2 separate regions of the Homo sapiens genome follow, and region 1 is linked to region 2. The links come from fine-mapping of genetic effects on gene expression. Tissue or cell type: blood mononuclear cells. Region 2 holds a variant in brackets; the other region holds the start of a gene. All regions are shown on one strand. Distances are between the middles of the regions.

The links. PIP is the estimated chance that this variant, and not a neighbour inherited with it, causes the effect.
Region 1: it holds the start of CHN1, and the variant in region 2 is fine-mapped to the expression of CHN1 in blood mononuclear cells (TOPMed, PIP 0.93).

What each region holds. Positions count from the first base shown.
Region 1 is chr2:175,000,705-175,008,811 of GRCh38, forward strand. It overlaps CHN1 (chimerin 1), which reads right to left and starts at 4,677. Exons shown (of 13, transcript NM_001822.7): 1 at 4,190-4,677. The coding sequence starts at 4,208. RefSeq lists an enhancer at 3,847-4,393 and a silencer at 4,378-4,437.
Region 2 is chr2:174,785,324-174,793,430 of GRCh38, forward strand. It overlaps LOC124907908 (a long non-coding RNA gene), which reads right to left and starts at 2,627. Exons shown (of 2, transcript XR_007087311.1): 1 at 2,551-2,627. RefSeq lists enhancers at 1,990-2,805, 3,218-3,512. The variant T/C (reference allele first, on the strand shown) is at 4,952.

The sequences.
Region 1 (8,107 bases), 220 kb after region 2:
AAATGCTGGTATTACAGGCATGAACCACTGCACCCAGGCTTTATTATTATTATTATTTTCTGTAGAGATGGTATCTCCCTGTGTTGTTCAGGCTGGTCTCAAACTCCTGAGCTCAAGTGATCCTCCAGCCTAGGCCCCCCAAAGTGCCAGGAGGCATGGGCCACCCATTACAGATGTGAGCCACCATGCCCAGCTGGGTTTTCTTATTTTTACTCTTTTAGAGACAGGGTCTTGCTGTGTTGTCCAGACTGGAGTGCAGTGGCTATTCACAGGCACAATCATAGTGCAACTACAGTCTTGAACTTCTGAACTCAAGCAGTTCTCTTGCCTCAACCTCCTGAGTAGCAGGGACTACAGGCACATTGCCACCATGTCTGACTAAAATATTAAGTTTTGACACCAGTACAAGAAGGAACATGGACAAAAATTTAAATAAGGATGATGATTTAAATGACAGCTGAAAAGAATATATTCTGAAAAAGGCAGATGAGCTCACACCACTGGGCCAGCCTCTTGTATTCTTTGGACAACTGAAAAATAAAAATGTCAGCAGAGAGTATAGTCAAGTGGGAACTTCCTATAAAATTAGCTTTCAGTCAAATATGAAAATCTTCAATTGACTTGTCTTTTAAAAAATACATTTTAATTTCAGGACATTCCTATGGGAAATCAGAAAATTTCCTAACTACATCACAAAGAATATGCCATTGCTATTTAATTGCTCCAAAAGATGTCCATAGGTAGGTGTGTCAGGTTAGTGACAGATGCTGAATAAAGTGAGATAATGAAAAGGTTTCCATGGCAGAAGGGTCTGAGGAAAGATGGTACAAAATTATAGCAAAATCATAAGCATTATTAGAAGTGATCTATGGTAGTAAGATGGTGACTAAATGGTAACAAGAATAAGGGGCAAGGAGGGTGAGCAGCAACGCCAGAGGTGACTCTACCCAGATAGAGGACCATTATTCAAGGTTCAGCCAGCCCAGCCGACGGTAACTGAGTTCCCAATCGCATCAGTTGGTCTGGGCTATAAACCACAGCCCCATTAAGCTATAAATGACAGAGATTCCTGCCAAGGCAAGAGCTGGCAGAATGCTTATTCACCCAGCTCTGCCAACTAAGGCTCTATTGGTGTGGCCAATCAGGACATTTTGTCAGGTACACCAGCCACAAATTCCCATATTCAAGGATCTGAGACTTTCCTTTTATCCCAGTAATTACTAGAAAACATGTGCTCTCTACTAAGGAAGTTCTCACAAAGCCTATACGGAATTAGTTAATAGTTAAGTGCCACTCACTATACGGAATTAGGTAATTAGTGAATTAGGTGCATTCGCTATAGTTCTAGAAAAGACTCTGAAGTGCCACTAGAGGACCATGTCTCTTGTACGCTGTGACAGATGTTTGCTGAAAAAATGAGCAAGGTGAGCGAGCAGAGTCTGTAATACATTTGGATAATTTTTGAAATTGGGGGATTTAAAAACTATATCGAAGCTGATAATGAGATGTGAGTTCATTTGAAAGGAGAAGAAAAACGGGTGCAAATTCTTAAGCTTTCAAAAATGCACATTTTCAATTCCCAAATGAGACTGTAAAATCTTTCAAGATTGGGGTCTGGTTCTTCTATCCCAAAATAAAACTAATATGCATTAAAAATATGTTAAGCAGCAAAGGTGATTAACAGTGAGGATGAGAGATAAAACAGTCTTAACTATTCAGCTTAATTTAACAAGTATTCGAGTTCCTATAATATACTTAACAGGTGAAAAAAATTAAATGTATGCAAATACAAAATCAGGTAATGTTAGAGGCTCCACTTTTTAAAACTAAGTCACCAACTCCCTATAAAAAGAACATTTCTTAAATTTATAAAAAGCCTGAATGGAAAGAAAATGTAAAACACAAAGCAAATAACTAGTCTAGACTCTACTGCTGGACTGCACTAACTAATCAACCAAGATACAAAAGATAGGGCCCTGGCAGTCGTTACTCTGGGGAGCCTCAGGTATAAACTCTGCTGAGCTCTGACAAATCCTGTTGATCTGGTTAGGTCCCTGCCTCTAACTCTTTTCACTACCATCTCACAGAACTTTATTGCTCCATTGCTCTTCTGTTCTAAGTTGGTCATTAAGAGTAAATATGAAGGGACATGAGGCACTTCTGACTAAGACCAACTAGTTAAAGGTAGTAAAATCTAAAATAAAATCCATTTCTTCTAACCCTTAGGTACATCTCTCAACATACACAAAAAGCTATTTTGTATTGGGCGAGTTTGACCCAATCTCCTAGCATTTATCTTGAATACAACAGTTCTCAAACTTGAGTGAGCATAAGAATCACAAAGGGAGTCACTTTAAAATCCCCTTCCCCCATGTCTTTGGGCAAAAGAATCTACATTTTTAATAGACATCCCAGATGACTGATGAGTGGTGTACAACCACTTTTAAAAACAGCTGCTGCTCTATCACTACTTAACAAATAGCCTCTGCACTCAAGAGTGCTTTGTTTTATAACACAGAAACGTTCACACTGTAACAAACTGGATTTTGGGAAGTGAATTCTATTTTCCCATAAGTAGACTTTAAAATTTTAAAGATACATTATTCATTTTGAAGGCTGGGAGTGATTTCTTATACTTTCTTCTATAGGCCACATTCCATGCTTTTCCCTTCCTCATCTTCACCACAGTGGTTAAAGATTTAGAATTTAGAAATCCTTTTAAAAGAGCATTTTTCACCCCAATTTATCTTTTTTATTCGTCAGGAATGCGAGTATTTGAAAAGTTGACTTGTAAACCTTACTTCTGAAACCACACCTTGAAAATGCCAAATATCTCTTTAGGAAAGAAAATGTTTGTACCAAAAAGGTCCACATTTAAGGAAAATGCTGCTATTAAATAATGCTTAGATACAAGGTACTGAGAAACAGCGAGAATTTTATTATTTTTCAGAAAAAGAAGACACTTTTTTAAAGTACCTATGGAGGATCATCACCAAGTAAGAAATGGCACTTCTAGTAATGCACTTGGGCACAGTAAACACAGTCCCAGACTGAAGCCTGGTGAAGTGAATTCTAGGCTCAGTTTTGCCACAAAAGAGCCATGTGACTTTGGGAAACAACCTCTCTGGGTCTAAGTTTAATTTATAAAATAAGATAGTTAAATAAAAGTAACACTTTGATTCTAGCAGCTTAATTCACTGGGAAGTATTTACCTCAAAAAGCATTTGAGGTATGTAACACCTCTAACGTGTTTGATCAAATGACATAATTAAAACTGAACTGGAAACTTGATATTGTGAATAACTTACTTAGGCTGTTCTCGTAGCTATCAATTACATATCATTGTACTTTGCTTCTTCAAAAAAGCTGAATACTTTGAACGTCTAATGTTCACATATTGAGTTTTCTTAAAGTCAGGTACGTATGTACCATAGTCGTTTTGTAAAAGGAAAGAATGTATCTTTTCAGTCCTTTTTCCCAACCCATTGTCATTGCAGACTGAGAAAAAAACAGCTTGAAGTCTTAACCACCAAAAGCAACAGTGCTGCAGTAATTACACCACAAAAATAACATTTCATTCTTAATGAATACTCAGTCTCCTGAGATTACAGTTATCTTCTGGTAACCAACTTTATTCTGTCTGCTCTCATTCGTTAGTGCAAACATTTTCAATTTTAACCCATATTCAGTTCACAAATCATACTTATTTCCAACGGAATATACTGAGTCCAAAAAAAAAATTCCCCAATAGTCCAACAGGAAGCAACACATGCATTTGGCAATTCCAAGGAGGCTGGGGACTCACAGATACCTCGTTCAAAATAAATAAACTTTCCAAGGATTTATTTACCGACGGGAAAGGCAGGTTTGAAAACAACCAGTTAACTTCACTCCCAAGTTGGCATCTTAGAGAATCTTTGTGCGTTTGCAAAACACCCAGGACCTCTGAGCCTCCCAGCCGAGAATTGGCCAGGGGAGCACACGCCCATCGGCCCTGCCGGGAGAGGAAACAATGGGAGAGGCGCGAGGGAGCAAGCCGGCGCCCCGGGCGCCCCAACTCTGCGGCCCCGGCCCGCCCCGACCCCACGCGCCGCGCCCCCTCCCCGGGCGCCCAGGCCCCCCAGGCCCCCGCCCCCGAGCCCCGGGACGCGGCCCACCTGCGGCGGCGCGGGGAGACGGCTGCACTTACCAAACAGGGTCAGGGCCATTGTAAAGGCGCTCGCCGCCGCCCGCGAGTCCAGGCGCTCCTCCCAGGCGGGCTAGGGATCACCTCATCAGCCCGCCGCACCCACACCTCGGAGAGAGTGGGGTGCCCGATGGGGCGTGCTGGGGGCGCCGGCGCCCGGGGAGGCTGCAGGCCGGGACGCGGGGGACCGCTGCAAGAAAAAGTTATTCACGCGTTATTGTCGGGCGCACCGGGCCCAGGGAGCCCCGCTAGCTCTCCGCGAGCCGGCACTTGTCGCTGCCATCAGGCGCGGAGCGTGCGCGCGGGAGGAGGTACCTGCGAGGCAGGAGGCTTGGCCGCGGCGCAGTGGCTGGCGGAGAGGCGGCGCCGCACTGGCGGCGGCGGCGGCGGCGACGGGGAGAGCAGCAGCAGCCTCGCACAGCCCCCGGCGGGGCGCGCTCACTCCGCATCCCGCGGCCTCGCAGACGCCATCTTGCGATAGCGTCTCCCACGAGCTCGGCCGCGCCGCTGCCTCCCGCCTCTCCCTCGGGCTTCCCGGTCGAGTGCGTTCCCATGGCAACGGGCGCGCGCGGGGGTAAGAGGGTGCGCCCTCATTCCCGCGGCTGCGAGGAGCCACCAGCGCCCCCCTGGAGGCGGCCGCCCGGAGCGGGATGGAGCGGGGCCGGTGTGCGTTTTAGCTGAAAGCCCAGGTTTTTTCTTGAATGGAATTTGAGGAGGCGCAGAGAGGAGAAAAACGCTGTTACTCGAAAGAGGAAGAGTCACAGGAGGATGCTGAGTGAACGCAGCGCCCAGGCAGGGTCATCTGGGGACCTGGTGCGTGTGAGAACATATTTCTTCTCCTGGCGCCCTCCAGGCTCACTGTGGCTGGAGCCGGTGACCTGAAGCTGCAGGGCTCTGGTAGGAACAGAGGCACTGAAAGCTGCATTCCTCTCCGTTTGGACTTAGGAGCTGCTAGTAGTTCTGATGAAATTGACACACATTAGGAAAAGGAGTCGCTTAAAAAGCATCTGAGATTACCTAAGATAATTTGTTAAAAGACCAATGCTTACACCTGATTTTCTTCCCTTTACATTATACCTCTTTGATATTGTCTCAAGGAAAAAAAAATCAGCATGTGTCACTGACTGGCACTTATTTGCCACAAAAGATTGTTCCCCTGAGCTTCTTGTATTTATCTGATAATCACTGGCAACGTCCTCCTTTCTGTGATGTTGTCTCCTCACCTCTGTCTCTGCCATGAGGAGCCATACAACGCCTTGAGATTGTCAGCCAAAAGATGTTCTTGAAAAGCTGGGTTATATGTTTTTCGTCGTTGTCGTTTAATGTATTCAAAAAGTCATTCTTCTCTAGTTGCTATATGTGTTCCCTGTTTAAGAAATTCCTTCTTTTTTCTTGTTTCTCTGCTTAGGGATTTGATACTATTTTGGTATCTGATCATGTAGATCTTCTCTTTGGTTCTCCTTTCTTTCTACAGGCGTCTTTCCTCTTAGTTCCTCAGGTTCCCTAGTGTCTTCTCTCCCATTTTCAAATAATTCTTTAAGAATATTATAGAAATATCTTGTATTTAATGTATCTTAGAGATCGAATCCTGATAAAGTGGGAGATTACTACAGTACTTCCAATGGAACCACAGTTAATTCACCATCATTATTTCAAAGCAGACTTAAGCATCAGAAGAAAAGCAGGTTGGAAGGAGGAGCCAAGCCTTTTGTTTCAAGTCAGTTAACTCAGGAAGAAAGAAATATTAAAATGATTCAACATGAATGGGCAAGTGTTTAAGATGCTATATGTTTGGAATTTTGTGATGTAAAATGGCTCTCTTTAGCCACTAATCAAAATACATCTTTAAAATCCCCAGAATTTAAAATCTTTCATGAAAATGGACTCTTGATTTTGAACAACCTTTCTGCTCATAAAAAATTACAAACACACAGCTCATGAAAATAAATGAGAAACTCAAGAAAGCTTTGTGGGATAGATTTTATAACCATATAAAGATTGCTGCTAATCTGCTCTGCAGCCAAATAAATCAGAAACCGAAGACTCCATTTACTGTTTCAACTAGTGGTCTTCAACATTTTTGGACCAAATTTCCTTTTGAGGCTCTAATGAAAATACTGTCCCTCCTCTTAGAAAAGTGCTTGCATACATACACACATTCACCGGAAATTTTTCACATAATTTCAAGGGGATTATGGGCTATTCAGGGACCTTAGGTGAGCCCCTGGAAGTGTTTTTTGTAATCTCAGAAAGTTTTTGCCTTTATAATTTAAAGGAAAATATTTTCCTTCAGAATAGAACCATTGAATTTTGAATAGGAAAAGACCAAAACTCCCATGATTTATAGGTAAAAAAATTGAGTTCCCCGTAAAAAGATTTTCCCAAATGTGTTCACCTATTTAGTAGCAGAACCAATGGGAAAATCTTAGATTTCTGGTGTTCTCACCGACCACCTTCCCTACCCACATCCCGCATCAATTTAGAGGTTGCATGGTTTGAATTTCAAAAGAAAAATCTGTTTAGTATTAGAAGCAAAATAACGAGAGTATTTTGTCCTTAGCCATTCTGCATAGAGTTTGGGAAGTTGCATTTTGTCTCAAAGAGTTTTTATTAACATGCCCTTCTACTCAGAACTATGTGTCCCATCATGCTAAAAGAGAAACAATGCCTTTCTCTCCTCTTTGTTAAGCTCTGTTAGAGCATCAAGGTTTTGGTGCTGCAGCTCAGCTTGCTAGTAGCTCTCTCCATCCCTTGAGGGGTTGTCCTGGGAGTGAGACAGAGAGAAAGGAGCTGCCCTGCACTCAGATTTACCCTCCCATCATACAGCCGGCCTTTGGTTACTAGACCAGCTTTCCACTCACTAGTTTGGCCAAATACAACTGAATCCTAGTGAAATACCCTGCTTAAACTCAAGTGAAGATCCTTTTCCTCTCCCCTTTCTACTCGCACACCCACGTACACACACACACACACAGCTGTTTTTAAGGTACAATTTGGAACAAAACAGTGTGAATGTTGCTATGTTTCCCTTTAAAGCATCCTGCTTTCCACGAGCCATTCCTTTCAACTGACTTCCAAATGGTTTGATGCTCTAACAAAATGCTCTCTATACTTGATCAAAGTGCCTGTCTTGGAAATAGTATTGGCTTTTAAAATAGCGTATTTTTTTCAATGAGCTATTCCTATTCTATTGCATGTGCTTCTTTTCTCACTTAGCTGAAAATAAAGCCACAGCCTTTCAGCTACAGAGTCAATGCAAGGAAGGGCGTTAACTGCTTGGAGGTGATTATTACGGGTGGTGACTTAGATTGTTTATAAAAGAAGGGCAAAGAATGAATTGACTTCTCAAAATATTTATGTTTTCATTCAATGATTTCATTTTGTGCTTAACATGCAAGTGCTTAGAAGAGCCAGATTTGTTTATTCGTTACTAACTAGCTGTCAGATTTTTAGACAAATGTTTTACTGTTTCTAGTTCTTATCTTCCTCCTTTGTAAAATGAAAGGATGGTACTAAGGTATCTCTAATGTCCCTTTTAGGTTTATCTGTCATTGTGTGATATTTTAAAATCTTTAAATTAACTGGTTTATGGATAAAACAGAGGACATTTTTATTTGAATCTTCAATATATTTAAAGTGCTGTTATATCTAAAGTTCATAAATACCTAATGTAATAAAGAAGTCATATTTTGTCAAACCAGTGGTACTGCTATTTCTTCTGCAATGTGTTGTACTAATAATGTTATATTAATCATGTAGAAAGCAACCTTTTTCTGGTTTAACAGGATTAAAATTAAAAGTGTGCACTGAACAACCCATTTCAAATTTACTAAAACAATTTCTCATTTTTATTTAAGTTTTGTTGACTAAACAGAACCTAGACAACCCTTTAAAATGGTTTTCCTACATTTTAAACTAATG
Region 2 (8,107 bases):
AGATACGGATACCCAGGGGAAGGAAAGGAATCAGAATCAGCCAGACTTTCTTTCCCAGGGTGGACAGGGACTTCTGGGGTGCCTGGCAATGTTTTTCTTCTTAACCTGGGTGGTGGTGACAAAGATGTTTGCTTTATAAATTATTCATTAAACTCTTCAGTTACATGTCTTTCTTTGAATATTTTATATTCACTATGAGAATATGCAAAAGAGAAAAGCAAAATCCAGTCTCCATGTCTAGAAATGGCTGCTTCCTTTACCCCAGGCTTCCTTACTTCTGGGACCTCCAAGCAGCATTTGTCCAAGTCTATGACCAGGGTCGTGAGTCAGTGTGCTCTTACTTTCCAAGTTCTATGATGAGCTTAGCCTTATATCTGGGACTGTTGTATGTGTGGAAGTGGGAGGGGTGGGAATATGCTGCCCCAAGAAGACAAAACATTAGGAATAACAGTGAAAACACGAGACAACGCTGTAGAGACTTCCAGTGTGGTGGAAGTTTGGAGAATGAGTCCAGGGAAGGAACACTCCATTGGTCCTGAGGATGGACTGGGGGAGACAGAAGCTGGGAGTGGGGAGGGTGAGAGAGGATGTTGTGATGAAGGTCCCTGTGAATGACCGGTGGAAGCCAAGTATTGCTGGATCCACAGGAGGGTTTGGAAAAGCAGGAGAATGTTTGCTTCACCCCACCTTGTTGCCAGTTTTTGTCCACCAATCAATCAATTATCAATTCAGTGATGCCCCCAGATATGTTATATCTAACAGTCAATAGGAGAATCTTGAACAAAGAAGACATACAGAAACCTTCAGAGAAAAATAGAAAGTGAATAAGAGAATTAAAAAATAGATGCCATTGTTCTCATTGCCAAACTCTATTGGAAAACAATCCTCAGCTGCTCCAGGAAACGCATTAATCAGAAGTCTCCCGGGCTTGCTGTGGAAAATAGTTTGGTAGTTCCTTACAAAGTGAATCATAGAATTACCTTACAATCCAGCGATTCTACTTCGGTTATATATCCAAGAGAATTGAAAGCAGGGACTCAAACAGACCCTTGTGCACCATAGCCTTATTCACCATAGCCAGAGGTGGAAAAACCCAAGTGCCCATCCACAGATGAATGGATAAACAAAATGCAGCACATCTATATAATGGAATATGATTCAGCCTTAAAAAGAATGAAGCATTGAGACTGCTACAACATGGATGCACCTTGAACCCGTGCCAAGGGAAATAAGCCAGTCGCCAAGGGACAATATTATAGAATTATTCCATTTCTATCAGGTACCTAGAATAAGCAAATTCACAGAGACTGAAAATAGAACAGTAGTTAGCGGGGGCTAGGAAAAGAAGGGCATAGTTATTGTGTGTGTGTCGTTGGTTTGCTTCTTTGAGACAGAATCTCACTCTATTACCCAGACTGCAGTGCAGTGGCACAATCTCTGCTCACTGCGGTCTTGACCTCCTGGGCTAGGGTGATTCTCCCACTTCAGCCTCCCGAATAGCTGGGACTACAGGCATGCACCACCATACCTGGCTAATCTTTGTAATTTTTGTAAAGACTGGGTTTTGCCAAGCTTCCCAGGCTGGTCTTGAACTCCTGAGCTCAAGCGGTGATCTGCCTGGCTCAGCCTCCCAAAGTGCTGGGTCTGCAGGTAGCTATCATGCCCCTTGAGAGTTTTTTTTTTTTTTTTTGAGACAGAGTCTTGCTCTGTCACTTATCCTGGAGGGCAGTGGCACGATCTCAGCTCACTGCGACCTCCGCCCCCCGGGTTCAAGCAATTCTCCTGCCTCAGCCTGAGTAGCTGGGATTACAGGCGTGTGTGGCCACCCCCAGCTAATTTTTGTATTTTTAGTAGAGACGGGTTTTACCATGTTGGCCATGGCTGGTCTTGAACTCCTGACTTCAAGTAATCCACCCGCCTCATCCTCCCAAACTGCTGGGATTAGGGGCATGAGCCACCACGCCCAGCTGAGAGTTATTGTTTCACAGGTACAGTTTCTATTTGTCATGATGATAAAGTTCTGTAGATGGATGGCACAACACTGTAAATATAATTAATACCACTGAATTGTACATTTAAAAATGGCTACAATGGTAATTTTATGTATATTTTACCATATTCCAAAAAGAAGTCCACAGAAGCTCAAAAAATTGTTCCTGTGTGTTGAGATAGAGGAGAGAGGCCTGGGCTGTGGAATCATTTACTGAATACCAAGAAAGAAAACAAGGTAAACTTTCCTTGTTGAAGGTTGAAGAAGAAAAAAATGCTTTCTTTGGCCTATCCCTGGAGCTTCTGCTACTGTTGGGCCAGCCTCTGGCAGCAGCACAGAGATAGATGTTAAACAGCGCGGGTAGACCTGGGTGCTTTCAGAAAAGTGGCCCCTGCCCCTTCTTCCTATCCTCATCCCTCAACAAAGGCTGAACCCTGGTTACCCTCCAAAAGCCTGTTTTCTGGGAAATTGCCTTTTAGAATTTTTCTTTAAATGTATGAATCCACCCTGAATGCTATTTGAAAAAGAAAAGGAATTTAAAGATGTTGAAGTATGCTTACATATACACAATGGAAAAATTTGCTTCTCAAACAGCCTGAGTAGAAAACCTCGCATCCCCATGGCAACCAGATTCCACTGTGACCACACATCAAATGGGTGGGTGACCTGGCAATGTAGGCCTGGGCTCTTCAGCCCCTCCCTGCGAACATATGGGGCCCAGATGTACCACCCACTGCAGTAGGGTGCTTGAAGCTCCAGGATGGCTGGCTGAGGGCTCTGTTCTAGTCACTAAGGGATATTCCTGGAGACCCATCTAACCTGGGACAGGGAATCAGTTCTTCCTGAAAATCATAGAGGGGCAGGAGACTCTCCCTCAAGCCATTGCCCCGGGGAAATGCAAGACCCCTGTGGCTACTCAGGGGCTTGGATTACTAGGATGAGTGGTTGGGATTTAAAACAATTGTGTGCTGCTGACCAGAAAACCAGGCCCTTGGTAACACAAGAACTGCAAGTCCTGATCAGTTAAAAACCTAAAGAATAATCAGATCCTTAATGCTTCATTTCCTTGAACAGACATCTGACCCTTTTATAGAGTTTGTGTCATCTTCCCCTTTGATCATCTTCCCCTTTGATCATTCAGAACAAGTACTTCTTTCCAAACTACGGTCTCAGTCCCATTTTCAAATAGTATTTTGGAATGGCTAGCCTATGATAACCCCACCTCCCTTCCTGTTGAGCTTCCTAATGATACCGAAGGGAAGAGCGTGGTCCCTTTAAGTGATACGGAAGCGGGGGCGGGGGGGGGGGGGGAGGGAAGGGCGTGGCCCCTGGCTAGGGCTCCACCCCTACGAGCCTAGATGAGGACAGGCATTTTTGTTTTCCTGCTCAAATGCTGCATTTCCCAAGACCACCCTGGCCTGCCACGCCCCCATCCTGTGCCTATAAAAATCCTGAGGCCCTAGCAGGCAGACACACAGATGGCAGGACGTGGAGAGGAGCACAATGGCGGAGGAACTAGGCCACTGACCGGCAGAAGCAGAATGATGCTGTGGCAGTCGGATGAGAGCCCAGGCCGCTGAGCTGTCGACTCCAGGGGGGAAGCCTTCCCACTCCATCACCTTCTGACTTCCCCCATCTGCTGAGAGCTGCCTTTACTCAAAATCTTGCACTCATTCTCCAAGCCCAGGTGTGATCCGATTCTTCAGTTACAGCAAAGCAAGCACCCAGGATACAGAAAGCCCCCTGTTGTTGCAACAAGGCAGAGGGTCTAATTGAGCTGGTTAATACAAGCTGCCTATAGACGACAAAACTAAAAGAGCGCAGGGTAGCACACGCCCACTGGGGCTTCAGGAGCTGTAAACATCCACCCCTCGACACTGCCGTGGGGTTGGAGCCCGGTAGCCTTCGCGTCTGTATGCTCCCTAGAGGCCTGAGTAATGGGGCACTGAAGAAGCAAGCCGGTCCCCGTGTCGCACGCCCTGCAAGGGCGACAAGTGAACTTTTCCCATTTCACTAAGGTCTTTCTTTTACGAAATTGATGTATAATAGTTGTACATGTATATGGGGGTACGTATAATATCTTGATACCTGTATACAATTTGTAATTATCAAGTCAGCTGATTGGGAAATCTATCACTTCAAACATTTTTGAGTTGGGAGAGTCACAATTCTTCTAGCTATTTTGACATAGACAATAAATGATTAACTATAACTTCCCTGCTATACTATCGAATACTACAACTTACTCCTTCTATCTAACAGTATTTTTGTCCCCATTAACCAACGTCTCGTCATCCTCCATCCCTTCCCAGCCTCTGGTAACCACCATTCTCTCTCTATTTCTATGAGATTCACGGTTTTTTTTAGCTCCCACACATGAGTAACATGTTATTTTACTTAACATAATGTCCTCCAGTTTCATCCATGTTGCTGCAAATGACAGGAGTTTTTTATTTTTATTTTTATTTTTTTTTTTTTGAGACAGAGTCTCGCTCTGTCGCCCAGGCTGGAGTGCAGTGACGCGATCTCGGCTCACTGCAAGCTCCGCCTCCCGGGTTCACGCCATTCTCCTGCCTCAGCCTCCCGAGTGGCTGGGACTACAGGCGCCCACCACCACGCCCGGCTAATTTTTTGTATTTTTAGTAGAGACCGGGTTTCACTGTGTTAGCCAGGATGCCCTCGATCTCCTGACATCTTGATCCGCCCGCCTCCGCCTCCCAAAGTGCTGGGATTACAGGCGTGAGCCACCACGCCTGGCCCGGATTTCATTCTTATGGCTGAATAATATTCTATTTTGGATACACCACATTTTATTTATCCATTCATCTGTTGATGGACACTTAGGTTGATTCGCTGTCTTAGCTATTGTGAGTAGTGCTGTGATAAACATGCAAGTGTCTTTGGCATACTAATTTCATTTCCTTTGGATGTATATCCAGCGGTGGGATTGCTGGATCATAC[T/C]GTAGTTCTAGTTTAGGTTCTTGAGGAATCTCCGTACTGGTTTCCATAATGGTAATACTACTTTACATTTTCACCAACAGTGTGCGAGTGTTCCCCTCTCTATCCTTGCCAGCATTTGTTATTTTTTGTCCTTTTGTCTACCACCATACCATGCTGAACACGGGGATCCCATCTGAGGTCTTTCCTGTGGGAGTGGCCGGAAGGCCATCATCCTTGTAGTCACCCTCCCCTGCTGACCCCAAGGAAAGCTTTGCAGGGCTTGTAGATATCAAAGCAAGCCCTCGATTTTGATATTTCGGGGGCCCCAGCCCCAGACTGGCCAGCTTTCTCATTTCTCCCACAATGCAGTTTTTATAATTGGCAAGCCTTGTTTTTACGTTCCAAGCCTGGAGTCTTTTTCCACAACATTATAGAAGACCTTGGGCATTCTGAGAACTAAGTAGCTTGCTCTTGGCATTGTCTTTGATTGGGCCAGGCTTTCAATGAAGGAAAACACATCAGGAAGAAAGTTGCTCCCAGGGTTGCTGACTGATCGCAGAGATTTTTTTTTTTCTTTACCACTTTTCTTTGTGTTTGGCCAGGTATAGAGTGAGGGTGGGGGGTGGGGAGGCCTCTCCTAGCAGACTGAGCTTTTCTGCACCTTAGGCTAAGGCTGAGTGGGGCCAGTCCTCTCCTGGCCATCTCTGAGACTTGACTCCCCACTACAGAGGAGTACAGGGGCACTGGGCATTTCTTCCTTGTGAGAAATTTTCAGCTCCCGTCAGAATGACCTTCCACCAAACCCTTTGCTTCTTCCCGTCATAAAGTTGGAAGAAGAAAAAAGAAAAGCGGTTCGTGGTATGTGGGCAGGTAAAATGTTAACAACTTTGCTATAATCCATGTTCAGTTCAGTAGACTTGGAACAGCATGAATTTCGCAAAGTGAAAAACTCTGGCTTCCTCTGTAGACGCATTGCTCTGCAATCTGAAAACTAGCAGCAAGCCAGAGTAATAAGAGCAAGGAAGGGGGAGAGGGAGGAAAAAGGGAGAGGGCAGACAAAATCAGTGTCCTAGGGCCTAGCCTGAACGGTTTAAGTTAATGCCTATCTATTAATATCTTTTCTTTCTCCTTCCTTTTTTTCGCCTTTCTCCCTCCCTCCTTCTTGCTGCCTCCCTTCCTAGAGACATGATGATGATGCTTCCCTCTGGCAGCTCTGTCTTATTTGGCTATACCCAGCCAGAGCTATAAGAATTCAAGCCTGTCTTCACAGATGTTTCCTTTTAATCACTATAATTAATATTAGTGATTGTTAATGGGGACATACTAAGAAACACACTTGCAAAATGCTCACTGGCAATTGGAATAACCTTGATTTTGTGAGCCACGCATCCTCTTTGCTTGGCCACCGGTTCCACAGACAATGCATCAGATCCTAGAATTATCTGATCATTTATTAATTTCTTCTCCCAGACCTGGGACAAAACCAGGGGGTTTCCAGAGTGGAAACAACAGGGAAGTTAGCTGTCCTGACTGAGAGACTGTGAAGGTTCTCAGTGTGGATTTCCTCTGATCTCCTGGCATCACCATCTGGAGTGGGAATGGGTATCGGGTGGGTGTTCACTGAATGCTGGTTCTGGGCTGGGCCTGTGTTAGTGGGCAGGCTGCTCAAGTGGCTTTGGGACTCTGGGGCAAGAAGGCATCCTGGCTCCTCCTACTCTGAAAAAGTGGATGGGTGCCTTGCTGGGGGTGCCTCAGCGAAAGGCTGTATGTTGACAGATCCGGGGATTCCAGTCTACTCAAACTCATTAAGCACATGGGAACTCCCGGCATAGGGCAGGCCCAGCAGAGGCTATGCTGGTGGACTGGGGACATTCTCAGCGTGGGGAGCCTGGGCGTCTTGTCACTTCCCATTAGCTGCAGGATGCCAGGATCCTTCATTTCTGATAAATCATTCATCCATCGACCTAAAGTAATGTTTTTAAAACTGATGTTAAGAAAAAAAAATGTTTTTAGATAAGTTAGTAAGTTTGCAGGAACAACAAGGCTTCCCATACACAAGTTGCCAGTTTGTATAATCTCCTCAACTTTTTAAAATGCAGAACTTCTCAGAAGCTTTATTATGCTAACATGATTCTAATTTCCACACAGGTGGAATTGGTATACAGTATTTCCCAAGCTCGTTTAACTGTCGTTCTCTTTGCTCTTGGGATACCTGTTGAACTATCTAATGCATCACCAAACCTGCTGATAAAGCAAAACTAAGCTAGCAGAACTCAAGGCGGAAAGGGAGAGAGCCACAGCATATAAGTCGTGTCTCGGGATGAGGAAGACAGGAGGATTTTGTAGGGTTCTGGGGGGACTCGGCTCAAGTTGGTTAAGGTGGTTTTTTAAGGCAGGGCATATAGTAGTTAAGACTAGCCAACCCAGCAGGGTCTGGCAGGGACTTTTGATAGATAAGCTATTGTTTGGTAAGCAAGCTGTTTGCTCAGGTGAGCAGTGTGCTGTCTCAAGTAGATTGCTCTATAGGGAGTTTCTGAAGCAAAAGTGAAATTATTGCTTCATAGTCTTATCTGCCTTGGGCAAAGATTTCCTGGACAAAACAACTAAGTCATGTTGACACAGGTGGTCTCAGTTCTTAGGACCTATAGCTGTGTTCGGTTGATGGAGGTTGTCATAGTTCTCATAACAATTCATATTTCTCACATGTACAAGAGACTAGTACATGGGATGCTAGTCTTTTCAAATGCACTCTGAGAAATACAGAATCTTTGAAGTTAACATTTCCAACAGAAAGTCCTTGAGTTTAGTGCCTATTGCATAAAAATGACTTCCTGTGTTTCTCGGGAACCTCCCTGGTCTTCCTAATTAAGGATTTTAGTTAATAAGTGTTCATCTGATTCATTCTCCTTGTGATTTGTGATTTTTATAAAATTTGATAAAGTCCCATTTCCTTTCTCTAAGAACATCTAATTTAGGTTAAGTTATGCAATTTAGAATAAAATTTGAATAAGAAAAGAAAGTATTGAGGACAGTCAGATTTGAGTCAGAAACTGGGAGGTGACTTTGAAGGGAAGTAGGAGCAATCAACTGTATGGAATATAGTTTCCGATTTTTGTTTTCTTGATGCTCTGGCATTTGATGCATTGATGGTAGAGAGCCTGCTCCTCCCAGGGCTAG